Linked DNA regions of Homo sapiens. The protein of the gene in region 1 purifies or fractionates together with the protein of each later gene. This does not show direct contact. Each region holds a gene or a part of one and is shown in the gene's direction. Other genes may lie near its edges.

The links.
Region 2: the proteins of MAPKAP1 (region 1) and CAMSAP2 purify together in Homo sapiens (affinity purification with mass spectrometry, with the first as the bait; one large-scale study listed by BioGRID). This does not show direct contact.
Region 3: the proteins of MAPKAP1 (region 1) and NADK purify together in Homo sapiens (affinity purification with mass spectrometry, with the first as the bait; one large-scale study listed by BioGRID). This does not show direct contact.
Region 4: the proteins of MAPKAP1 (region 1) and CGN purify together in Homo sapiens (affinity purification with mass spectrometry, with the first as the bait; one large-scale study listed by BioGRID). This does not show direct contact.
Region 5: the proteins of MAPKAP1 (region 1) and STK38 purify together in Homo sapiens (affinity purification with western blotting; one study listed by BioGRID and IntAct). This does not show direct contact.
Region 6: the proteins of MAPKAP1 (region 1) and PINK1 purify together in Homo sapiens (affinity purification with western blotting; one study listed by BioGRID). This does not show direct contact.
Region 7: the proteins of MAPKAP1 (region 1) and TESK2 purify together in Homo sapiens (affinity purification with mass spectrometry, with the first as the bait; one large-scale study listed by BioGRID). This does not show direct contact.

The regions. Positions count from the first base shown.
Region 1 is NC_000009.12:125,672,709-125,676,208, reverse strand, and holds part of MAPKAP1 (target of rapamycin complex 2 subunit MAPKAP1), read left to right. Parts: intron 1-911; exon of another isoform or gene 912-1,055; intron 1,056-3,500. UniProt on the Homo sapiens protein: Component of the mechanistic target of rapamycin complex 2 (mTORC2), which transduces signals from growth factors to pathways involved in proliferation, cytoskeletal organization, lipogenesis and anabolic output.
Region 2 is NC_000001.11:200,825,893-200,829,392, forward strand, and holds part of CAMSAP2 (calmodulin-regulated spectrin-associated protein 2), read left to right. Parts: intron 1-2,680; coding exon of another isoform or gene 2,681-2,713; intron 2,714-3,500. UniProt on the Homo sapiens protein: Key microtubule-organizing protein that specifically binds the minus-end of non-centrosomal microtubules and regulates their dynamics and organization.
Region 3 is NC_000001.11:1,757,971-1,761,470, reverse strand, and holds part of NADK (NAD kinase), read left to right. Parts: intron 1-1,568; coding exon of another isoform or gene 1,569-1,737; intron 1,738-2,227; coding exon of another isoform or gene 2,228-2,370; intron 2,371-2,828; exon of another isoform or gene 2,829-2,939; coding exon of another isoform or gene 2,940-3,106; intron 3,107-3,336; exon of another isoform or gene 3,337-3,413; intron 3,414-3,500.
Region 4 is NC_000001.11:151,524,887-151,528,386, forward strand, and holds part of CGN (cingulin), read left to right. Parts: intron 1-755; coding exon 756-904; intron 905-2,088; coding exon 2,089-2,221; intron 2,222-2,944; exon of another isoform or gene 2,945-3,052; intron 3,053-3,500. UniProt on the Homo sapiens protein: Probably plays a role in the formation and regulation of the tight junction (TJ) paracellular permeability barrier.
Region 5 is NC_000006.12:36,526,980-36,530,479, reverse strand, and holds part of STK38 (serine/threonine-protein kinase 38), read left to right. Parts: intron 1-3,500. UniProt on the Homo sapiens protein: Serine/threonine-protein kinase that acts as a negative regulator of MAP3K1/2 signaling. Converts MAP3K2 from its phosphorylated form to its non-phosphorylated form and inhibits autophosphorylation of MAP3K2.
Region 6 is NC_000001.11:20,636,458-20,639,957, forward strand, and holds part of PINK1 (serine/threonine-protein kinase PINK1, mitochondrial precursor), read left to right. Parts: intron 1-1,384; coding exon 1,385-1,672; intron 1,673-3,434; coding exon 3,435-3,500. UniProt on the Homo sapiens protein: Serine/threonine-protein kinase which acts as a sensor of mitochondrial damage and protects against mitochondrial dysfunction during cellular stress.
Region 7 is NC_000001.11:45,453,164-45,456,663, reverse strand, and holds part of TESK2 (dual specificity testis-specific protein kinase 2), read left to right. Parts: intron 1-3,500. UniProt on the Homo sapiens protein: Dual specificity protein kinase activity catalyzing autophosphorylation and phosphorylation of exogenous substrates on both serine/threonine and tyrosine residues. Phosphorylates cofilin at 'Ser-3'. May play an important role in spermatogenesis.

The DNA.
Region 1 (3,500 bases):
TTGGTAAATATTACCAAATTACCGTCTAAAAAGTCCCAGTTTTCATTCCTTCATATTGTGCATGAGAGTGCCCATTTCTCTGAACCCTTGCCAGAGTTAGATTTTTAAAAATCTTTTTGATCTGTGCACAACTGATCAGAGAGTACAATTTGTTTTTATCCGTGATATGTATGTCCTTGTCTTGGAAATCAAACATAGCTTCAAATGATAATTTGCTGCTCTTTGGGAGATTTTTTAAAATATTCTTTTGGGTTTTGAAAAGTAGTCTTGTTAGAATAAGTTGAATAGTGTTCCAAGGGGACAATTTTGAAGGGCACGTTGAAGAGATGCTCTTGTATTACGAAAAAAAGACAATCCTTTATTTATAATCACACACTTACACCTGGCACATTCATATATGACTTATCTCTACAACAAAATTGAATAGTCCTTGGAAGTTAGACAGCAACATTTATTGAACTCCTGCCATGTATAACAGCCTTTGTTGCCAGAAGGAATATGGTGTTATGAACCCTGTCCTTGTGGAACTTATAGTCTAAGTCTTTAAGTACATGTAATTGGAGGTAAAAAGTGACATACACAATAATATGTTTTCTGGGGCAGTCCTGTGGGAGTTCCATATCAGAGCTGGTAGGGAATAAATATTTTTTGAATGAATCATACAGATTCCTTAATGTATGAAGTCATAGTGTCCTAATAGAGAAGATATCTGCTGCTGTTGAGGCATTTGTTCTGGGAGGATAAAGCTGGGAAGTTGGTATGTGCCTTCAGAAGTGTTTGCCCATTCCTCTTATCTTCAGAAGTGATCTATTTCCCTAGAATAGATTTTATTGAGGGCACTTCAGTATACTTTTGTCACTTTGCCTTTTGCCATTTGACTTTTTGGTGCTAGAACACCTATTAAATATCTGATCACTTCTCGGCCTTTTGGCTAAGATCAAGTGTATTAAATGTGTGACTTCTCATTAAAGCCCTTGTTTTTGCAAGGGAGAACTATTCAGTATGAATTTGAAAGCACCTGCCTCTCTACTGGTGACTAGCTGCCTTCCTTTCATGCCAGGAAGATGGCTTATTGTGATTGCTGTAGAAGGATGTTTGCAGCTCTGATCTGTGATACTATGCTTCCACAAATACTCTCATTTATAAATAAATGTGTGGTGTATACATTTTTTATGGTTATAGAGAAGTTTGTATTTTTACAAGTGAAATTTAAATGCTCATTGTTAATTTCATATTTTTTTCTGATCAATATCCTTAAAATGGTAGATTGACACTAATACTTCAGGGACCAGATATCTCAGAAATTTGATGCTTAAAGGAATCCCATGGTATTAGGAGATGTACTCGGTCTGTATTAGGGTATTAACTTTTTGATTCAGGGATACCTTACTCACCTTTGCATTTCCCATTAGCCTCAGAGTAAAATAAGTACTCAAGGAATATATTAAGAGGAAAAAAGTGAAGATTAATGTAATTTGCTTGATTAGAGATGCTCCTCAGTTAAATTTCTTTTTAATCTCAGTATCTTTATTTTAAGACCCACTTTAAGACACATCAGCAGAATGATGTGTTTCCAGACAACAATTTTTAAAACCTTAGTTAACTGTAAGGATTTATTAGCTAGATTTCCTCTCTATGTTCCATTTCTAGAAGAAACAGATTACAAGAAAATCTGGTGTTATAAGTCCTTCTGAAAGTAAGTATCTTCTAGGACTGTTCCTGGAAACATAGTCAATCCAGCTTTCATATTCCTTGTACTTCTCAACAATTTTGCAGGGGCAGGGAAGTCACTCAGATGACTTGCAGTGTCCTCTATCACAAAGGAAGCACAGACTTATTTTATGTGCCACGAACTTACTAAGACAGATGGGATATTGACATATTTTAGGACTACTTTAAGCAAGAATTGATCATTGAAATTATTGATTTTTTATCATTATTATTAATAGCTAACATTTATTTAATTACATGCCATGTATTTTTTTGAGCATTTTACCTGCATTATCTCCTGAAGCTTCCATTTTATAAATGAAGGAAAAAAAAAAGGGAGGCTCAAAAAGGTAAAGTATTTTGACTGAGATCTTATAGCTAACGAGTAATAGGGCCAGGGTTTGAACCCTTTCTGTCTCTAGGGCCTAGTACCTAACCGTTGTCCTGCAATATTTTCTTTGTTGAGTATTTTCACTTAACTGAGAGGGTGCTATCTTGTTACTAGAACAAATATTATTACAGTGTTTTTTGTATGTTTTGTTTTGTTTTGTTTTTAGAAGACAGGGTCTCACTATGTCACCCAGGCTGGAGTGCAATGGTGCAATCATAGCTCACTGCAGCCTTGAATGCTGGGGCTCAAGTGATCCCCCCACTTCAGCCTCATGAGTAGCTATGACTACAGGCATGTCCCACCATGCTCAGCTAATTAAAAAATAATAATTATTATATATATATATTTTTGTAGAGATAGAGTTTTGATTGTGTTGCCCATGTTGGTCTTGAACTCCTGGACTCAAGCAGTCCTCCTGCCTCGGCCCCCCAAAGGGTTGAGAGTACAGGTGTGAATCACTGTGCCCGGCCTCATTACAGTTTTAACAGGACTGAGGAAGCAGTTTTTATAATTAAGTTTCTAAAATAAGAAGTTGATTGTATAGTAGGTAATTTTGATTATAAATTTTATTTTAAAAACACAGGCCAGGCATGGTGGCTCACGCCTGTAATCACAGCACTTTGGGAGGCCAAGGCGGGCGGATCAACTGAGGTCGGGAGTTTGAGACCAGCCTGACCAACATGGAGAAACCCCATTTCTACTAAAAATACAAAATTAGCTGGGCATGGTGGCGCATCCCTGTAATCCCAGCTACGCGGGAGGCTGAGGCCGGAGAATCTTGAACCTGGGAGGTGGAGGTTGCAGTGAGCCAAGATCACGCCACTGCACTCCAGCCTGGGCAACAAGCGCGATACCCTGTCTCAGAAAAAACACAACAACAACAACAACAAAAACACAATACTATCTTGACAGGAAAATATATTCATTGAGCAACATTAATTTGGTGGTACATCATTTTTATAAAACCCCTAGTAACTCTGAAAGCATTGTCTGTGCCCTTTTAAACACTTCACAATCATATGACAGGAGGGGAAATGTAAACTGATGAAATAGAGTTTTGTACTTTAGCACATCATTTGAGGAAAATACAACTTGTTCCCCCATGACCTTATAAAGTAATGAGAAGATTGCATGATAGTGAAGGGAGAAAGAAAGGAAAATATATTGTTTTAACAGTAGTTATGTGCTTCGAGTGGCCTGACTTGTAAGGAGTTGCTGTGATTTGTTTTGCAAGAGTGCAAGCCTTCCTTTCTGATTCTATAGAGATCTCATTGACTAGAGCTGCAGCCCCTAGTGCTTATAAGGATTTCCTTTCAGCTTAGACTAAATCCTTTTAAGCTCCACAGAACAGGGATAAATGTTGATTTTCAAGGTGGCATTTTACTACACTGAATGTGTC
Region 2 (3,500 bases), on another chromosome or scaffold:
GTAGTTTCCAGTATCTTGCTATTGCAAATTGTGCTGCACAGAATACTGTTATATGTGGCCTTTTGTATTTTGGATATGTATTTTCAAGGTAAATTTCCTAGAAGTTGGACTGCTAGATTGAAGGGTAAATGCATACTGTATGTAGTTTTGTTAAATGTTGACGAAATCCCCTCCAAAAGAGCTTGTACCATTTTATATTCCATCAGCGATTCGGCATAACTTTTGGATCTGCAACAGCTAGGAGATTAAGTCTAATGGCTGGGCGTGGTGGCTCACACTTGTAATCCCAGCACTTTGGGAGGCCTAGGTGGGAGGTTCACTTGAGGTCAGGAGCTCAAGACCAGCCTGGCCAACATGGTGAAACCCCGTCTCTACCAAAAAATACAAAAATTAGCCAAGCATGGTGGTGCATGCCTGTTGTCCCAGCTACTAGGGAGGCTGAGGTGGGAGAATTGCTTGAACCTGGGAGGCAGAGGTTGCAGTGAGCTGAGATAGCTCCGCTGCCCTCTACCCTGGGTGACAGAGGGAGACTGTCTCAAAAAAAAAAAAAAAGATTAAATCTAACAAGTTAACAAGTCATGCAGTAACAAGTCACAGCCATGATTAACTCCCTGAAGGACCCCAACTCTTTGAGGTCTCCAATAAAGACCACACCAAACCAATATCCTCCTGGAACGGCCTGAGAGCACCTAGAAGTAGTTCAGGAATTATCCTACCTTGCCAGAATGTTGTAGATACCCAGAGGAAGAGTATTATTTGGAGAGTATTAATGGCAAGTCCTAAAACAACTAGCCAAAATTCAGGGTGAGCCAAACATGTATTATAAAGACAATTGAAAGGAATATTTGAAATTAGAACTATTCCAGAAAATCTGGACTGCCTAGGTTGGCCCCTTTGTCGGTAGAAACTTAATAAAAGTTTTTTCACCTGTTATCCATGGGTTTTAAAAAACCCTTTGTTTCTTGCCTGGTGGTCCTGATAAAAAGAAAAAAAAAATCAAAAAACCTTTGTCCTCGTGGTTATTTACATCTTAAAACAGGATTTGATGTTGCAGTTTGCCTAATTCTTCCCTGAAAACCAAAAGGATAGTTGCTGATCACTTCAGAAATGGCGTTATTCTTCAGCAAGGAACTTATGCTATGTATTTGAGCTTTTTGAAGCATACGTATATAAGTATGCATAGTATATTTATTTGTTCTTTTAGTACATTTACTCTTTAGTTAAATTTCCTTCACACAGCCAATCTGTGGGTTTCCTTTTTCCGCCAAGAAGATTGCTGTTACCAGTTTAGATCAATGGAGGGCCAAGAGAAAGGCCAGAGCAGTCTGAATTAGTAACAAAATCCAATTATTGCATATTTTACAAGAAATATGGAATAACTTTAACCGTTAAGAGACTTCTTTGTACACCTGCTGTTAGGAATAGTCCACAATAATTTCTTGTTATCACCATTTTCTATTTAATGGGTTCTTCTAGTCTAGAAAACAAAAAAATCCTTGTTTTTAAAATTTCTGTTACAAATTGGAAACCCTGACACGTTTTCAGTGGCTTCCTGCTCTTTGGTCCTGCTCTTGTACTTTTTGTGGCTATTATAACTGCAGCTGCCAAAAACGTTCAGTTAAATGGGAGATTAAAATACATTCCACAAAATTATTGAGGCTATTCTTCCTGGTGCTATAAGAAAAATTTATTGGAAATGTTGTTTATATGTAGGAAGCTGGTATGTTTCTGATTCTTCAGGTGACATTTTTCTAATTCTTAAAGTTCTTGAAAATACCTTATTTATATTATTTTTCTGTTTATACGGAAAAACTTTCTACATAAAAATTTTGGATATGAATTTTAATTTTGGATATGAATTTTAACTCAGATTCTATTTACTTTGGTTCACTTCAACAAACATTTATTCAGAGCCAGAAGCTGTTTTAGCAGATACAAAGATAAACAAACACAAATGATTAATTCATGTTATCTGAAATTATGGGTTTATTATATTCATTTTTTTAAAGAAGAAAATTAGATTCTTTGGGACAGCCCTAGATAGTAAATTTAATAACATTTATATTCTCTTTGTGTGAGTAGTTACTTGCTTTAGACACTTACAAAAATCTTAACTGGTAACAATTGCCAACTAGGTTTTTTTCCATTAATTAAAAGAAACTTTTTATATAGTGAAGGAAATGATCATCTTGATATATTCTACTATATTATTATTTGCTTTATACTTGTTTTTATTGAAATTATCTTTCTACTTTGCTTTTTGGGGAATATTGCCTTGTCAGACACAGTCTACTAATACCTAAGAATTATGATTGCAAACCTAGCTGTAGAATATTTTTACTTCCCTTTTGTGATATAGATTTATTTTTTAATATGACATATGATTCCAAAACTCAGAAATAAAATTTTTTGCTGCTAAAGTATACAGCATATTCTAGGTATCCTACAATGAATATCTGTATGGGGAGAGGAGAGAGACAGGAGAAGATAGTGGTCTTTAGCATTAGGAACTTATGTATTTTTAACTAAAATATTTATTAACATATGAAATGTTATGAGAACTATAAACTTGGAACTCCACTATCAGAAGCTTTACTATAATTTGTTAATTGAAGATAATTCTGATGAATTTTCCCTTTACCTTTTGCTTTCCCCTTTTTTCCCGCTGCTTCCTCTGAAGTCTCCTTCCAAATGGTTTTGGAAACTGGTTCCAGTAAGTTTGCTCAGCTACTTCAGTTTGCTCTCCAGAATTGTAATTGTAGAATGGTATTGTTTATGTCTTGCTGTTAAAGTCATTTCATGTAATTCTGTTAGTCATTGAATAGAGATTGGATTTTAAGGTCATGTAAAATGGAAAGATAAAAGATACAGCCAAGGTTTAGATCAGAAGTTCTAAAAATAATTTAAAGGGTAAACATCCTGTTGCTAATCTTGTCAGTATTCACAGACTATCAGTAAGTAGGTTAAAAAAAAAAAACTTATGGGCCAGGTGCGGTGGCTCACACCTGTAATCCCAGCACTTTGGGAGGCCAAGGTGGGCAGATCATGAGGTCAGGAGGTCGAGACCAGCCTGACCAACATGGAAAAACCCCATCTCTACTAAAAATACAAAATTAGCTGGGCGTGGTGGCGCATGCCTGTAATCCCAGCTACTCGGGAGGCTGAGGCAGGAGAATCGCTTGAACCAGGGAGGCAGAGGTTGCAGTGAGCCGAGATCGCGCCATTGCACTCCAGCCTGGGCAACAAGAGTGAAACCGTCTCAAAAACAAAAACAAAAACAAAAATCTTACTATGTAGCTTCTCATTAATTTAAATAATTTTAGTAAATATTAATTTGAATTGCATGAATAAATTGCCTGCATTTAAAAATCATCTTTGTGGCTGAGCATGGTGGCTCACGCTTATAATCCTAGTACTTTGAGAGGCCAAGGTGGGAGGACTGCTTGAGCCCAGGAGTTCAAGACCATCTTGGACAACATATTGAACCCCCATCTCTATTT
Region 3 (3,500 bases), on another chromosome or scaffold:
GATCGATCTGATATCTGTGTTTTATGTGTAAAGAATTATAATCCAGGCTGGGCGCAGTGGCTCACACCTGCAGTCCCAGCACTGTGGGAGTCCGAAGCAGGCAGATCACTTGGGCCCAGGAGTTTGAGACCAGCCCGGGCAACATGGTGAAAGCCCATCCCTACAAAAAACACAAAAATTGGTCAGCTGCGGTGGCTCACACCTGTAATCCCAGCACTTTGGGAGGCCAAGGGGGGCGGATCACGAGGTCAGGAGTTCAAGACCAGCCTGGCCAATATGGTGAAACCCCATCTCTACTAAAAGTACAAAAATTAGCCAAGCATGGTGGCGCGTGCCTATAATCCCAGCTACTTGGGAGGCTGAGACAGAGAACTGCTTGAACCCGGGAGGCAGATGTTGCAGTAAGCCGAAGATCGCACCATTGCACTCCAGCCTGGGCGACAGAGCAAGACTCAGACTCAGAAAAATACAAAAATTAGCAGGCATCGTTGCACACACCTGTAGTCCCAGTTGCCAAGGAGGCTGGGGCGGGAGGATCACCTGAACCTGGGAGGTTGAGATTGCAGGGAGCTGTGATTATCAAAGTGCATTCCGCCTGGGCGACAGAGCAAGACTGTCTCCAGAGAAAAAAGTGAGCTCCCAGCCAGCCCTGAGAGTCGTATTCTGCACCTGGTAGACATCCTCATTGCCTCTTCCCCAGAGAAGCCTTTGCTTCTGGGACTGGTGCCTCAGCTCTCAGGCCTCTGTGCAGAACGGGCTCTCTTCCTCTGTGCAGAACGGGCTCTCTTCAGGGCCTCCTCCTTCACGGAGTCATGGATGCTTCACTTTCTGCAAGGGAGGACCATGCGGAAGGGCCGAGTGTTCCAGCGCGCAGGCTGCTGGGGACTGTTGACCAGAAAGCGCAATGCGGCCGTGTGATACGGGGGCGGCCACTGCATGGCCCTTTGCTGACAGGCACCGGTGCCATGGAGGCTGGGGGCGCACAGCAGGGACGGAGGCCCCAGCCCTGGGCTGTCACCGAAGTTCAGGTCCCAGGAGCCACGGGGGAGTCATCCGAGGAGCTGCTCTGCAAAGTGTGGGCCCCGCGGCAGCGTGCGTCCCAGGCAGGACGGGGGTTGGCCTTGCTGCTCCAGACGCTGACGGAGCCCCTTAGGATGGAAGTGACTCGCACTTGTGCTTTTGAGGCCCAGCCCTTTCAGTGCCACTGGTTCCCGGAGTGTCTGTGACCTGTCACTGCTGCCAAATGCCTGAGGCGGGGGGCCCGACCCCTGTTTGCTTTCCCTCATCCAGTCCATCTGCAGATTCTGTCACTTTGATCCCAAAATATCCAAGCAGCTCCCCTGCACTATTGCCCGGCTGCCCTCCGCTGTGTGGACTCCTGACCACTCGCCGCGGCCTCACCATCCCTTCCCTGCACAGCAGCCACGTGGGTGACCCAGAGTGCTCCACTGCCCTCCCGGCCCCGCCGTGGCTCTGTCCCGCCATCCTGTGCTTGCTGTGTCCCTGGCACCCCACCGGGCCTCTCCCCCGCTGCCTGGTGCCCTCCCTGCACTTCCTGGTCCTGGCAGAGCCACTCCTTTGTCACTCGCATCTCAGCTGCTGCCTTCACCAGCCGTCAGTCACTCGGGCCAGGGCGGGGTCACCGGACAGGTGCATGTTCTGCCTCAGCCCTCAGACCAGGGCGTACTCAGTGGTCCCCGAGCTGCCCGAGGCCAGACAGCCCCGCAGGAGGAAGCGGTGGGTTTGTGGGGCAGCCTTGAGGGGCATGCAGCTTTCTCGGCACCCCCATGGGAGCACGCCCCCTCTGGGCTCTGTGTCTCTGGGATCATAACCTCCCGCTTCCCATCCCCGCTGTGGAGGGGCAGGGCTTCCCATGCATCTGAACTTCCGTCTTCCCTGATAGTCCAGAGCAAGACCCTGTGGGGGCGCCTGGTGAGGAGGGCACCCGCTTCCTGTTTTGTTGTCCAGGGAATTGGTGGGCCTGTGTTGTGGAGGTGCGTGAGTGCCCGTGTGTCACAGTGTGCGTGGCCACCCATGTGTGAGACAGTCTCAGTAGGAGCTGGCCAGGCGGGCCAGGCTGTGGCCATGCTGGCTTCACGCCACCCCCTGCCCTCTCCGTGCAGTACCCACAGCCGTGTGTGCCTGCAAGCTTCACGCCACCCCCTGCCCTCTCCGTGCAGTACCCACAGCCGTGCGTGCCTGCAAGGGCTGGTGTCCTGCTTTGCAGGTGACCCAGGAAGAGGTCGAGGCGCTGGTTTGTGGTCACACACAGCGGTGGGTGCCTGGGCCGGTGTACGACGCCGCTGCTGGTGGCTCTGGCTGGGCTCAGCTGAGCCTCAGGGCTGGAATGGGTGTAGGCCAGGCCACTGGGTCAGTGGTGACTGTTGGCGGGGAGAGCAGGGGGAGCCGTGTGCAGGGCGGGGGCTTTGCTGGCTGACCAGGCCGGAGGACCGTGAGCCACCTGCACGCCCTTGGGCCGGAGCCAAGCAGAGTGACGCAGCGGGCTAGGAGGCAGGGAACGCCCTTCCACCTGACTGTGGCCTGAGGGTGCCTTCCCTGGGGCCCAGCCGGTTCCGCGGGCCAGAGCGGTGGCTGGCGCAGTGCTGGGGCGAGGCTGGAGGCTGGGTACTTGGCCAGGTCTGAGGCCACGGGAACAGAGGGCTTGGTCCCACCCGGCTCAGTTAGGAGCAGGGAGCTGAAGTGTGGCCTCTTTGCTGCTGAACTGAGGACTTTTTTTCAGAAGGGATTAGGCAGGAGGACCATGTGACCAATGAGGAAACTGTTTTGTTTTGTTTGATTTTTATAAGTGTAGGAAGCTCTTTTGACTTAGTTGCTTTTACAACAACTTTACCAAGTCTCATCACAATTGTGTTTTGCTTTGAGTTTTGAGTATGAAGAGCTTAGGCTTCTAGTGTGGGCGCACAGTCAGGACCATACCGATGGGGCGGCCGCGTGTTCGCCAAGCGTGGCCTGGATGCTGTGGACACACTGGCCGGCTCCCAGCAGGCAGGGGCTACCTCGCGAGCCACATGTGTGACCCGGCAGGTGCTGAGCTCATAGGGGATGGCATGAGTGACCCCACGCCTCCCAGTAATGCCTGCACAGGGTGAGTGCTGACCAGCTTCCGAAGGTCACAAGCGATGGGCTAAGGTCTGTGGCCCTGTGGCTGCCATCGGCGTCTGTGTTGTGGTTCTGGGGGTGTTAGTGGGACGGTCACACTCCTGGGGAAGTCACTGCTGGGAAGAGGCATGGCAGGCAGCAGCTTTCTCGATTGGGCAACTTGGAACTAGCTGGCTGGCGCGGTGGTATAAGAACTTGTCCTTTGGGGCTGAGGATAGGCGGTGAGCGCTGACGACGGTGGCCAGCCCCGCTGCGCCCTCCCTTGGCTTCTGGGAACAGGAGCAGGCTCCGTGGTGTGTGTTCCCGGTTCTGGGCTGGGATGTTTTCTGTGACTAACGTGGTAATGGGAATCCCACCGGGGTGGGCCCTGCCTGTGGAGA
Region 4 (3,500 bases), on another chromosome or scaffold:
GCATGTGACAAGAGCAGGGTCTGAGAGAGGAGGGCACTGCTGGAGAACAAGGCTGCCTTGGGATCTTGGACTTTTGGACTTTTCATGGTTGCAACTGGGAACTCCCCCTCTCCTCCTAAAGGACACAGTGAGATCTGCTGAAAACCTTGGGCAGGAAAACTATAGGGGCAGAGGGAGGGAGTACAGGCCAGAAGTACCTTGAGGTTGTGTGACAAAAGTCCCAAGGGGGACTGGGTGCGGTAGCTCATGCATGTAATCCCAGCACTTTGGGAGGCTGAGGCGGGTGGACTGCTTGAGCTCAGGAAGTTAGAGACCAGCCTGGGTAACATGGAGAAACCCCATCTCTGCCAAAAATACAAAAACTTAGCTGGGTGTAGTGATGCGTACTTGTAGTCCTAGCTACTTGGGAGGCTAAGGCAGGAGAATCGCTTGAACCAAGGAAGCGGAGGTTGCAGTGAGCCGAGATCATGCCATTGCACTTCACCCTGGGCAACACAGCGAGACTCTGTCCCCCTAAAAATAAAAAGTCCCAAGGGGAAATAACTGGGGAGGTTTCCTGTAGATGATAGAGGGGTGGACTGTGACTTGAGGAGAGAATCTCTGCTAGCATTGTACCAGGTACCACAAGAGTGTCAGGGGGTGCACCTGGCATGGTGCCCTCTGGGTCTAAGCCTTTCCTTGTACACACTCACACTTTGATTTGAAGTGACCTCTTCCCTCTGAGCCTTCTGGTGTCCAACTCTCCCCTTCTCTAGGACCATGCAGTGCTGGAGGCCGAGAGGCAGAAGATGTCAGCCCTTGTGCGAGGGCTGCAGAGGGAGCTGGAGGAGACTTCAGAGGAGACAGGGCATTGGCAGAGTATGTTCCAGAAGAACAAGGAGGATCTTAGAGCCACCAAGCAGGAGTAAGGACATTGGCCCTCTCAGAAATACCCATGATTCATATGCCACTTCCTTTCTTTTTTTTAATTTTTAATTTTAATTTTAATTTTAATTTATTTTTTGGGACAGAGTTTCGCTCTTGTTTCCCAGGCTGGAGTGTCATGGCACGATCTTGGCTCACTGCAACCTCTGCCTCCTGAGTTGAACAGATTCTCCTGCCTCAGCCTCCCAAGTAGCTGGGATTACAGGCGCATGCCACTACGCCCAGCTAATTTTTGTATTTTTAGTAGAGATGAGGTTTTACCATGTTGGCCAGGCCAGTCTCGAACTCCTGACCTCAGGTGATCTGTCCACCTTGCCTCCCAAAGCACTGGGATTACGGGTGTGAGCCGCTGCGCCTGGCCCCCTTTCTCCTTTTTTTTTTTTTTTGAGATGGAGTCACACTCTGTTGCCCAGGCTAGAGTGCAGTGGTGCAGTCTTGGCTCACTGCAGCCTCCGCCTCCTGGGTTCAAGCGATTCTCCTGCCTCAGCCTCCCGAGTAGCTGGGATTATAGGCGCCTGCCACTAGGCCTGGGTTTTTTGTATTTTTAGTAGAGACGGGGTTTCACCATATTGGCCAGGCTGGTCTTGAACTCCTGACTTCGTGATCCTCCCACCTCGGCCCCCCAAAACGCTGGGATTACAGGCGTGAGCCACTGCACCCAGTCCCTTTCTTCTTTTTTTTGAGACAGGGTCTTGCTCTGTTGCCCAGGCTGGAGTGCAGTGGCACAGTCTGGGCTCACTGCAACCTCCACCTCCTGGGCTCAAGCCATCCTCCCACCTCAGCCTCCCGAATAGGTGGGACTATAGGCATGCACCACCACACTTGGCTAATTTTTGTATTTTTTGTAGAGACGGGGTTTCATTATGTTGCCCAGGCTGGTCTTGAACTCCTGGGCTCAAGTGATCCATCTGCCTTGGCCTCCCAAATTGCTGGGATTACAGGCATGAGCCACCATGCCTGGCCCACTTCCTTTCTATCTATGGTATGCTCTTACTCTCCCATTTCTCAAACTGCTCTTTTCCACGTTCACCTTCCTTCCTCTTGAGAGTTGGTGCCCAGCGTGTTGGCCTCCAGAGAGGTGGCTTTTATTGTCATGCTAACCTCCCCCAGGCATGTGGCCTTACTCTGTTCCCTTTCCCCTTTATTTCACCTTGCCTGGCTCAGACTCCTGCAGCTGCGAATGGAGAAGGAGGAGATGGAAGAGGAGCTTGGAGAGAAGATAGAGGTCTTGCAGAGGGAATTAGAGCAGGCCCGAGCTAGTGCTGGAGATACTCGCCAGGTTGAGGTGCTCAAGAAGGTATTTGGGAATTGGGGGGCAGAATGGTAGGTAGGGGTGATGAACACCTGCCTTACCTCTCCATGAGGGCCTTCTTGCTAGTGGGGCTATCTCCTGTGTGCTTGGTTTCCAGGCCTCATCCTGCCTGCTCAGCTTGATCTCTTTCCAGCACAGCAGCACCAGTCTCCTCATTGAGCATAGAGGTTTCTAATGGAAAGTGCTCTCAGAACCCAGGTTGGGGTATAGCCAGAGGCTGCTGGCCGACTCCCAAGAGACGTCATGGGTAGCAGCATTTAGGTGGATTTGTGAAACTCCAGGATGATTTTTGCAGGCTCAGAAATCTAATTTGGTCAGCATGGCAAAAGCTGCTTTGTCTTTCAGAGGGGTCTCTAACTACATTTATGAAAAAATGTTTACCATTAGAATTTCAGTTTATTAATTTACATTGAGAAATATCATCACATGGACTGGAATACTTGTGTTGGCATGGCCTGGTTACTAATGTAACAAAACTAATTAGCAAAAGAAAAATAGCAGAGTATATGGTATTACATTGAAGATTCACTACATATTATATAACCCTTTAGCCTAATTATGGTACTTTCTGAATTTCAGAAGTAGCTAATAGCTAATAATTAGAACCAGAACTCCTATTTTAATTTTCTTTTTAAAAGAAATCAGAGCTGTGCCAGCATTTATTGTGTCACACATTTTGGTTTTATACACACACACACACACACACACACACACACGAAAGACAAGTGGCAGCTGCAGGGATTGTGCTGACCTGTTCTGTCAAAGTCTCTCCAGGTTGCTCTTGCATGCAGTTGGAGATCCCATGGCCACACTATATATATATATATATTTTTTTTTTTTTTTTTTTTTTTGAGACGGAGTCTCACTCTGTCACCCAGGGTGGAATGCAGTGGCGTGATCTCGGCTCACTGCAAGCTCCGCCTCCTGGGTTCACGCCGTTCTCCTGCCTCAGCCTCCCGAGTTGCTGGGACTACAGGCGCCCACCACCACGCCCGGCTAATTTTTTTTGTATTTTTACAAAAAAAATACACGTACTCAGTGTTTCACCGTGAAACATGGTTTCACCGTGTTAACCAGGTTGGTCTTGATCTCCTGACCTTGTGATCCGCCCTCCTTGGCCTCCCAAAGTGCCGGGATTACAGGCGTGAGCCACCGCACCCAGCCTCACACTGTATTTTTTTTAAACAACCAGCCTTACTAGCCATACCTTCATGTACTCTCCCTTCATGGTATTTTTTTTTTTATGGAGTTATATTTTACATGC
Region 5 (3,500 bases), on another chromosome or scaffold:
GGCAGAAGAATCACTTGTACCCGGGAGGCAGAGGTTGCAGTGAGCCGAGATAGTACCACTGCACTTCAGCCTGGGTGACAGAGTAAGACTCTTGTCTCAAAAAAAAAAGTATTTATTAGACATTTTCTGAATTTTAATCATGGAGATGTAATCACAGCCCTTTCCCCTCCCCCTCCGCTCCCCTCTTCTCTTCCTGACAGAATCTCGATCTGTCGCTCCTCTTCTCTTCTCTTTTCTTTCTGACAGAATCTCGCTCTGTCACCCAGGCTGGAGTGCAGTGGCACGATCTCAGCTCACTGCAACCTCTGCCTCCCAGGTTCCAGAGATTTTCCTGCCTCAGCCTCCTGAGTAGCTGGGATTACAGGCACGTGCCACCACGCCCGGCTAATTTTTGTATTTTTAGTAGAGATGGGGTTTCACCATGTTGGCCAGGCTGGTGTCCAACTCCTGGCCTCAGGCGGTGTGCGAGCCTCAGCCTCCCAAAGTGCTGGGATTACGGGTGTGAGCCACCATGCCTGGCCCTATTTCTGTTAAATACACTATTTTTCCTGGTTTTCAGTGTCTCACCAAAATACTGTCTGTTTTCAATTAGGGTGGAATAGCCCTATTCTCTCATCCCTGCTACCTCCAAATCAGGCTATGCCAAGAGGGGACCCTAAATTAGATTAGAAAAGGGGGCTAATTGTAAGTAGTAGTCATGAATGTGTCTGCACATTGCTATACATTCTGACTTTTTAAAATTTAGCAGCATACATTTAGAAAGTAGCTGTGTACAAAGCACTATTCTTAGTGGACATAGGGAATTCAGATATAGTCCCTGCCTTCAGAAGGACTTACCACTCTCTCATATAAGAAATGAACACACACGCAACTAAATGGAACACATGGAAGGCATCACTGGGGTGAGGCTGGATATGGCCTCTAAGTGTGAAAGTGGCTTCGTCTCTCTCCTAGGGTTCTGGTTTTGAACATTGGAATTGAAGGGAAGAGTGGCTCCACCAAGGGCTGGAGTGTTAGTTAACCTGGCACTGCTACCAGAGAACATGCCTGTGTGGAGAGTCCTGCTATTCTTTTTCATTATGAACAATTTTAAACATAGGTGGAATAATATAGTGACCCCGTTTCAATATATTCATCCCTCAGATTTAATAATTTTAGGGCTTTGGTACATTTTCTTCATCTATCCCATTTTGTTTTTTCTTGCTATTGTGTTTTAAGGTAAATTCCAAACATCTGTCATTTTAATCCTACATACTGTCAAGTATGCATTTCCAAAAATATGGCCATTTTCTTGCATAATGCAAATGCCACCATGAATCTAACCAAGTTAACAGTAATTCCTTTGATGTCATCTCACAGAGGATGTCATTTTTAAGTCTCATTTCAGGCTGTCCTTGCTGTTTTTGGTGTCCTCAAGGTCTTTGTGGACCTGGTCCTAATTGTTATCATGGATAGGCTTTTTTTTTCTGGATACTTTCTCTAATGAAATAATCTGATTGTGTTCAAGGAGTTAACTTCACTCTCAGGCAGGTATTCTGCAACCAATTTAATTACACTTCAGTAAACCTGTGGAAAACCTCTTAGTTTGTATTTAGGTTTAAAATATAATTAGAAGGAGCCACTTTTGTGACACAGTGGATAGTGCATTGGACTGGTAGCCCATTCTGATGTAGTCATTCAAAAACGTGTAGTCAGGACGTATGATGGTGTTTAGTACTCAAGGCACAAAAAGAGCTGACCACAGCTGTGTTCTTAGAGCTTTTGCCTAGCATGTTATGCTTTGACTTTTCTTGTTCTTCTCTGCTTCAACTACCTAACCACTTGCAATGGAATTAATTTACACTCCCGAAACTACTAAGAGTACAGCCTTTTCTCTCTAATACATGTGCACGCATAGATGCACATGTATCCCAAAATATTCTGGGAACTGGGAGAACTGTTCGTGTTCCTCTCTCTGTTTCCTGTCTTGATTAGTGGCATCATATCCCTCTAGACAGGAAATTCTAAGGTTTTTCTCTTGACTCCTATTGCCAGTTGGTCATATTTGCAATAGCTCTATTCACTTCATTCTAGTTTTCCTGCCCTAGTTCCAGATCTTTACTGTACATCTGAATCATTACAATAACTCTCAACTAGCCTCTTTCTCAGTTGCTTTCCCTGCCAGTCCATCAGATCCTCATTACTGCTGGTTACCATTCTAAAATAGAAATCTTATCACATCACTCCTTTGCACACAAGCCTCTTTTAGCACTCAGTTGTCTACAGAATGAGATCCAACCTTCTTGGTGTGGCATTTGTAGTGCTGTGTGCGTCAGCCACAATGGACTACATGCTATTTCTGCAGCATACTGTACACTCTTTTTTTTTTTTTGAGATGGAGTCTCGCTCTGTTACCGAGGCTAGAGTGCAGTGGTGCGATCTCGGCTCACTGCAAGCTCCGCCTCCTGGGTTCACAACATTCTCCTGCCTCAGCCTCCCGAGTAGCTGGGACTACAGGCGCCGGCCACTACACCTGGCTAATTTTTTTTTTTTTTTTGTATTTTTAGTAGAGATGGGGTTTCTCTGTGTTAGCCAGGATGGTCTCGATCTCCTGACCTCGTGATCTGCCTGCCTCAGCCTCTCAAAGTGCTGGGATTACAGGCGTGAGCCACCGCACCTGGCCAGCATACTGTAGTCTTATCCTTCTTTGCTCTGTTTGTACACATTGCCTGTTTATCTGGAATGCTGATGAGTGGTGGAGGAGAGATTCTAGCCCATGTGCTTTCATTTATTGTGCTGAATAAATGAAGGTTCTGTGGAATTGGTTGTAAGGAAGTTTTACTTGCTTCTTTTAGTTTTATGAGACTATAGATCAAAAACATTACTGCATGTACTTTCTAAAGTTCAGTATTCCAAAAGTTTGATGTCTGAAGGTTTTTTTTTTCTTTGAGGCAGAGTCTCACTCCGACATCTGAGCTGGAGTGCACTGGTGTGCTCTCGCCTCACTGCAACCTCTGCCTCCCAGGTTCAAGTGATTCTTGTGCCTCAGCCCCTCCCAAGTAACTGGGATTACAGGCACCTGTCACTATGCCCAGCTAATTTTTATATACATATATGTGTGTGTGTGTGTGTGTACTAATATATATACATATATTACATATATGTGTGTGTATATATATGTGTGTATATATACGTATATACATATGTGTATATGTATATATGTATACATGTGTACATATATACATATGTATACATGTGTATATACATATAAATATATATATATATACATATATTTTTTTTTTTTTTTTTGAGACGGAGTCTTGCTCTGTCACCCAGGCTGGCATGCAGTGGCGTGATCTTGACTCACTGCAACCTCTGCCTCCCAGGTTCAGGCAATTCTTCTGCTTCAGCCTCCTGAGTAGCTGGGACTACAGGCGCTCGCCACCACGCCTAGCTGATTTTTGTATTTTTAGTAGAGACAGGGTTTTACTATGTTGGCCAGGCTGGTTTCGAACTCCTGA
Region 6 (3,500 bases), on another chromosome or scaffold:
CAGCCTCCTGAGTAGCTGGGATTACATGTGCACACCACCACACCCGGCTAATTTTTTGTATTTTTTAGTAGAGACGGGGTTTCACTATGTTGGCCAGGCTGGTCTTGAACTCCTGACTTCATGATCCGCCTCCCTCGGCCTCCCAAAGTGCTGGGATTACAGGCATGAGCCACCACGCCCGGCCTGGACTTTCATTTTTTTAAAAGGTTCAAAGTTATAGTGCAAGGTTAAGTTGCTTACAGATAGCAGGTGCTTTAGGAACCCTCTAGAAGGAAAGTTGCCATGGGCTGGGTCATCAGGGCTGGTCACAGAGGAAGGAGGAGCTTGAGTTGGGCTTGATGGCTGAGCAGGGATGAGCCAGACAGAGCAATACTATAGAAACAGGGGCTGGAAGGATGCTGTGAGCAGCTTTCAGAGGGAGGCGTCCAAAGGATGAGTGCAGGCAGCGTGCAGACCAGCCTGGCAGCAGCCAGAACACAGATAACCTCCTGGGCAGTCTGATGGACAGCCGAGTGACACATGAAAGCAACATATTTTGATGTGGCTCAGAGCAGGGAAGGCACGGCACTGAGAGTGGGGTAGTCTAGAGATGGTGCCTGGTAGGCTATGGCCAAGGGGCATATGCAGAGCTGTGCCTGGCACCCAGGGGTGACTAACCTTGGAAAGGAAGAGCTCAGCAGATCAGACCATTTGAGAGGGAAAGCGGAGCCTGGGTGACTGGAAGAGTGACGTCACCGCTGCCTGAAGCAGGGGAAGACCCACCAGATTTTTGTCACATGGCCTCTTTCCCAGTGCAGCACTGCCCCCAGCACCTGCACCTCCATCTATTTCTGTCTGAACTCTTGTACTCTTGCTACCTTTCTGGACAGAGTAGCCTCATCGGGGCCCTAAGAGGCAGAGAGAGAAAGACAGTACTGAATCCCTCTGCTCTGGGGATGCGCCTGATGTCACCCACTTGCCTGAGAGACCCTCTGAGATCACTGTGGATCACACACTCCTGCTAGTTGCCCAGGAGCCGTCAGCCAAGGTCTTTGCAGAGCGAGCTGTCTCCATAATCAGACACCTCCAGAACTCTGCTGGAGAGTGAAGGCAGCAAGGAGAGGTGCACTGGCTGCGGGACGTGGGGTTTCTGACCTCTCAGATCATTGAGTATTGTGATCCCAGTGAAGCAACAGAGTTTGAGAAAAATCATTCTGAATAATGAGAAAGAAGATGGCCTGGACCCAGGCTGAGCAGTAGAACCTGGTTGGGTTGTGTTTTTCTGGTTTATTGATCTGGTCGACGTGGACCACGCCTTGCTGCACCTCTCTCTGCCTCCCCTGTTTCCCTTTTCTTGGGCCTTCCTAGGCTCCCTGGCTCACGGTGCATTCTTTTCTCATCACAGGCAATTTTTACCCAGAAAAGCAAGCCGGGGCCTGACCCGTTGGACACGAGACGCTTGCAGGGCTTTCGGCTGGAGGAGTATCTGATAGGGCAGTCCATTGGTAAGGGCTGCAGTGCTGCTGTGTATGAAGCCACCATGCCTACATTGCCCCAGAACCTGGAGGTGACAAAGAGCACCGGGTTGCTTCCAGGGAGAGGCCCAGGTACCAGTGCACCAGGAGAAGGGCAGGAGCGAGCTCCGGGGGCCCCTGCCTTCCCCTTGGCCATCAAGATGATGTGGAACATCTCGGTAAGCACCAGGCCTTTCATCTTTAAAGGAGATGTTCTCAAAATGCCCATCTTAGTGGGCCTGGTGAGGATTTTTTCCAGGAAGTAGGTAGGAAAAGACAGATTATCCACAGGAAAGGTGCCTGTATAGTCAGGTTACCTCCCCCTGTTACACAGAAGTCTAAACCAGAATGTTTGAAATTGTATTCTGCCCACAGATCACCCAGAGATCAGGTTCAAAGGTAGATTTTGGCCAGGCCTGGTGGACCATGCCTGTAATCCCAGCACTTTGGGAGGCCAATCACTTGAGCTCAGGAGTTTGAGACCAGCCTGGGCAACATGATGAAACCCCATCTCTATGAAAAATACAAAAATTAGCCGGGTGTGACAGCTTGCACCTGTATGTAGTCTTAGCTACTTGGGTGGCTGGTGGCTGAAGTGGGAGGATCACTTGAGTGCAAGAGGCAGAGGCTGCAGTGATCCAAGATTGTGGCACTGCACTCCAGCCTGGGTAACAGAGTAAGACCCTGTCTCAAAACAAAACAAACAAACAAAAAAAACCCAAAGGTAGATTCTGATTCAGCAGGTCAGGGATGGGGCCTAAGATTGTGCCTTCCCAATAAGCTCCCACGTGATACCAATGCCACTGCTCTGTCAACCACACTTTGAGTAACAAGTGCCTAAACCACTGATTTCTACCTTGATTGGTTAGTTCACCATCCCCTCCTTCCTGCAACCTGCCTCACTGGAGAGGGGGAACTGGATCTCTTTCCTTTAAGCTCACTCTGCAAGCCCACCTCCAGCTCAGAGGCTTGCATGTCAACTCCCTACTCTCAACTCTTGGAAGGACTCAAGACTTTGGGAAATTGAAGAGTATTTTTCCCCCACGAAAACAATTTCTGTCCACTTAATTTATTTACCTTGCCATTGCTAGGTAGGTTTTAAAAATGTATTAAGACCCGATGCTCTGTCTCCTGCCCATCCCTGGGCCCATCCATTCAAGGCCGCAGTGGGAAGTGGCCACAGCCGTTCATGGTGGGCCCTAGAGGATGCAGTTTCTTGTTCTGATTTGGGGAATGAAGGTTATTAGACTGTTGCACTCCAAGCTGGGTTAATAGCTAACAAGTAGCCAAATCCTTTGCCTGTGAAACATCCAGTCTTAGCATCAAAACATGCCCTGGTTGGGGCATGACAGCTGTTGCATTCACAGCAGCTACAAGATTGTTGATTCTTACCAGATCTTCTTGATACAGGTTTCATATGTCCTGAGAGCCCTTCCCAATACAATGAGGACAATAAGGTGCTTTCCCCACTCTTTGGTTTTTGTCTGTTTGTCGTGGGGGATGGAGGAAGGCTGTTCTGTGATTCAGTACAACTTCACCCAGGGTGGAGCATGTCAGGCTCTGGCCTGGCTGCTGAAGGGAGCCTGCAGAATGAGTTAGTGATCCAGTGGTCAATTTTGAACTGGTGGGGACCAGAGGCACCGATGGCAGGAAGCAGCACCCCATATCCTGATCACCTTGGCATCTCCTCCAGCCCTGGCATCTAGGCTGCAAGAGTTTGAGGAGTGTGAAGAATCCTCTGAGTTGGCATGGATGGTACCTCTGTCTGCCTCCCAGGAGTAACTAGTCTCAGCCTGCCAGTTAAGACAGGTCATCTTATCTCGAAGGTCAGAGCCAATTCTAGGCAGTAGCTGCCCTGCTCCAGGTTACAGGCAGGGCTTACAAGGAACTTACCATTCTGCTCCGGCCTGTGTAACCCTGGGTTCCTTGTGGGTGTTCCAGGCAGGTTCCTCCAGCGAAGCCATCTTGAACACAATGAGCCAGGAGCTGGTCCCAGCGAGCCGAGTG
Region 7 (3,500 bases), on another chromosome or scaffold:
AATTCTCCCCTCTCTTTTCTACATTGTATTTTCACTACTAAGTATTACCATTAACATGTTAAAAAAATTCTTTTAAGGAAAAAAAAAACCCAAATATTTTGGCTCTGTTATTTCCCCTTTATTTTATTTTATTTTTATTTTTTTTGAGATGGAGTCTCACTCTGTTGCCCAGGCTGGGGTGCAGTGGCATAATCTTGGCTCACTGCAACCTCTGCTTCCCGGGTTCAAGCAATTCTCCTGCCTCAGCCTCCCTAGTAGCTGGGATTACAGGCGCCTGCCACCACACCTGGCTAATTTTTGTATTTTTAGTAGAGACAGAGTTTCACCATTTCGGCCAGGCTGGTCTTGAACTCCTGACCTCAAGTGATCCACCTACCTCAGCCTCCCAAAGTGCTGGGATTATAGGCATGAGCCACCGCGCCCAACCTATTTTATTCTATTATTTTATTTTATTTTATTTTATTTTTTGAGACAGGGTTTCGCTCTGTCACCCAGGCTAGAGTGCAGTGTGGTGTGATCATGGCTTACTGCAGTCTTGACCTCCCTGGACTCAGATGATCCCCCCACCTCAGCCTCCAGAGTAACTGGGACTACAGGTGCATGACACCATGCCCAGCTAATTTTTGTATTTTTTGGAGAGTTGGGGTTTCACCTTGTTGCCCAGGCTGTTCTTGAACTCCTGGGCTCAAGTGATCAGCCTGCCTCGGCCTCCCAAAGTGTTGGGATTACAGGTAAGAGCCACCACACCCAGCCCCTATTGTTTCTTTTATTAATAGGTATACTTTCCCATGTCTTGTTTTTTTTTGGACCAAAACAACTCCATAGAGTTGTCTCTATGTACCATTTCCAGCTTCTTTCTTTCTAATGTGTCTTTCTCTAAAATACTTTTTATTGCAGTAAAATATATATAACATAAATTTACCATCTTAGCCATTTTTTAAGTGTACAGTTCAGTGTCATTAATTACATTTACAATGTTGTACAACCATCTCCATTATCCTTTTCCAGAACTTTCTCATCACCTAAACAGAATCTCTGTACCCATGAAACGTTAACTCACTAATTCTCCCTTCTGTAACTGTAAATGGGTTCATTGCCCAATGCACACAGCAAGTCAATAAGCTGAGACTCCAGGTTGCAGCAGAGAAAGGTCTAATCATAGGGCCGCCAAATGAGGAGATGGAGGAAAACCTCAAATTCATCTCCCGTAAGAGATGGGGGCTAAGGTTTTTTAAGGGTTTTGAAGTGGGCCGAAGTGTGGCAATTGTTTATTTGTTAAAGAGTACAGGATGAAGTCATGGGACAGGGAGATGAAGAAGCTGTATTCTCTTGCAGATCCCGTTCCTCTGTGGGGGACTTCAAACTGGTTGCTGGAATTCAGGGGTCTGAAAAACATATTAAGCAATCCTTAAACAAAAGCCTTATGATTATAATGTCAGAGATCCTGTTATAGGAAAGATGGGGATAGAAATAAAATCTTAAAGTTTTATGACCCTAATGTCAGAAATCCTATTCTGTAGGAACAATAGGAATGCAAATAGTCAGTATCTAGTGCTATATGACTTTTAGCAACCAGGAAGTGGGCCAAAGTGCGGCCTGATTAATGCTTAATTATAACTATATTTCTGTCCAGAACCTGGCATGCACTTCTTGTGAACCCTGTGGGGGCAGTTTCACTCCCACCCACTAATATCTTCTACTTGCTGTTTTTATGAATTTGCTTATTCTAGGTACCTTATATAAGTGGGTTAATATAATATTTATCCATTTGTGTTAGAGTTAATTCACTTAGCATAGTGTTTTCAGGGTTATTCATGTTGTAGCATATATTAGAATTTCATTCCTTTTTATGGCTAATATTGCATTGTGTATATATGTCATATTTTATCTGTCGATGGTGGGGCTGTTTCCACCTTTTGGCTATTGTGACTAATGCTGCTATGGATATTGATATACAGGTATCTATTTGGTTCTTTGCTTGCAATTCTTTTGGGTATTTAGCTGTAAATAGAATTGCTGAGTCATATGAGTAATTCTATGTTTAAGAAAAGATTATGGTAAAATACATACAAAATTTACCATTTTGGCTGGGCATTGTGGTTGACGCCTGTAATCCCAGCACTTTGAGAGGCCAAGACGGGAGAATTGCCTGAGCCCAGGAGTTTGAGACCAGCCTGGGCAACATGACGAAACTCTGTCTCTGGGGGAAAAATAAAATAAAATAAAATAATAAAAAAATAAAAAATAAATCTTTTTCTTACTATCTTAACAGTATTTAATTATGTTAAGTACATACTTAACACAACTGTTAAGTATGTACACATGGTTGTGCCTCCAAACTCCAGAACTTTTTCATTTTGCAAAACTGAAACTCTGTACCCATTAAACAACTCCTCATTTCTCCATTCCCCCCAACCCCTGGCAACCACTATCCTACTTTATTTCTAAGAGTTTGACTACCCTAGATATCTTATGTAAGTGAAAACATACAGTATTTGTCTTTTTTTGACTGCCTTATTTCACTTAGTCAATCTATGTTTAACTTTTTGAGGACCCACCAGACTGTTTTCCGTAGTGGTTGTGCCATTTTACAGTTCTATCAGCAATATGTAAGGGTTCCAGTTTCTCCATGTGCTCACTGACACTTATTTTTCTTTTTCATGGTAATCATCCTATTTGGTGTGAAAAGTGGTATCTCATTGTGGTTTTGATTTGCATTTTTCTAAACAACTAGTGATATTGAGCATCTTTTCATGTACTTGTTGACCTTTTTTGTATATCTTCTTGGAGAAATGTGTATTTGAATCCTTTGCTCATTTTTGAATTGCATTGTATTTATATATTTTATATATAGGGAATATTTATCCCTTACCAGATATATGATTTGCAAATATTTTCTCACAATTTGTAGTTTGTCTTTTCACTCCCATGATGGTGTCCTTTTTTGCACAGAAATTTTAAATTCTGATTAAGTCAAATTAATTTTTTCTTTTGTTACCTTTTGCTTTTTGTGTCAATCCAAGGAATCATCACCAAATCCAATATCATGAAGATTTTCCACAATGTTTTCTTCTAAGAGTTTTATAGTTTTAGCTCTTACATTTAGGTTATTGATCATTTTAAGTTAATTTTTCAATATCGTATAAAGTAAGGGTCCAATTTCATTCTTTTGCTTGAGGATACCAAATTTTACAAGCACCATTTGTTGAAAAGACTGTCCTTTCCCCATTGAATGGTTTTGGCACCCTTCATGTCACAGTCAATTAACCATGTTAGAGAGGGTTTATCTCTCTCTCTCTCTTTTTTTTTTTTTTTTTTTTTTGAGACAGGGTCTCATTCTGTTACCTAGGCTGGAGTACAGTGGTGCTATCTCACTGCAGCCTTGACCTCCCAGACTCAAGTGATCCTCCCACTTCAGCCTCCCGAGTAGCTGGGACTACAGACACACAGCATCATACCTGGCTAATTTTTGTATTTTTTTTTGTAGAGTTGTGGTTTCA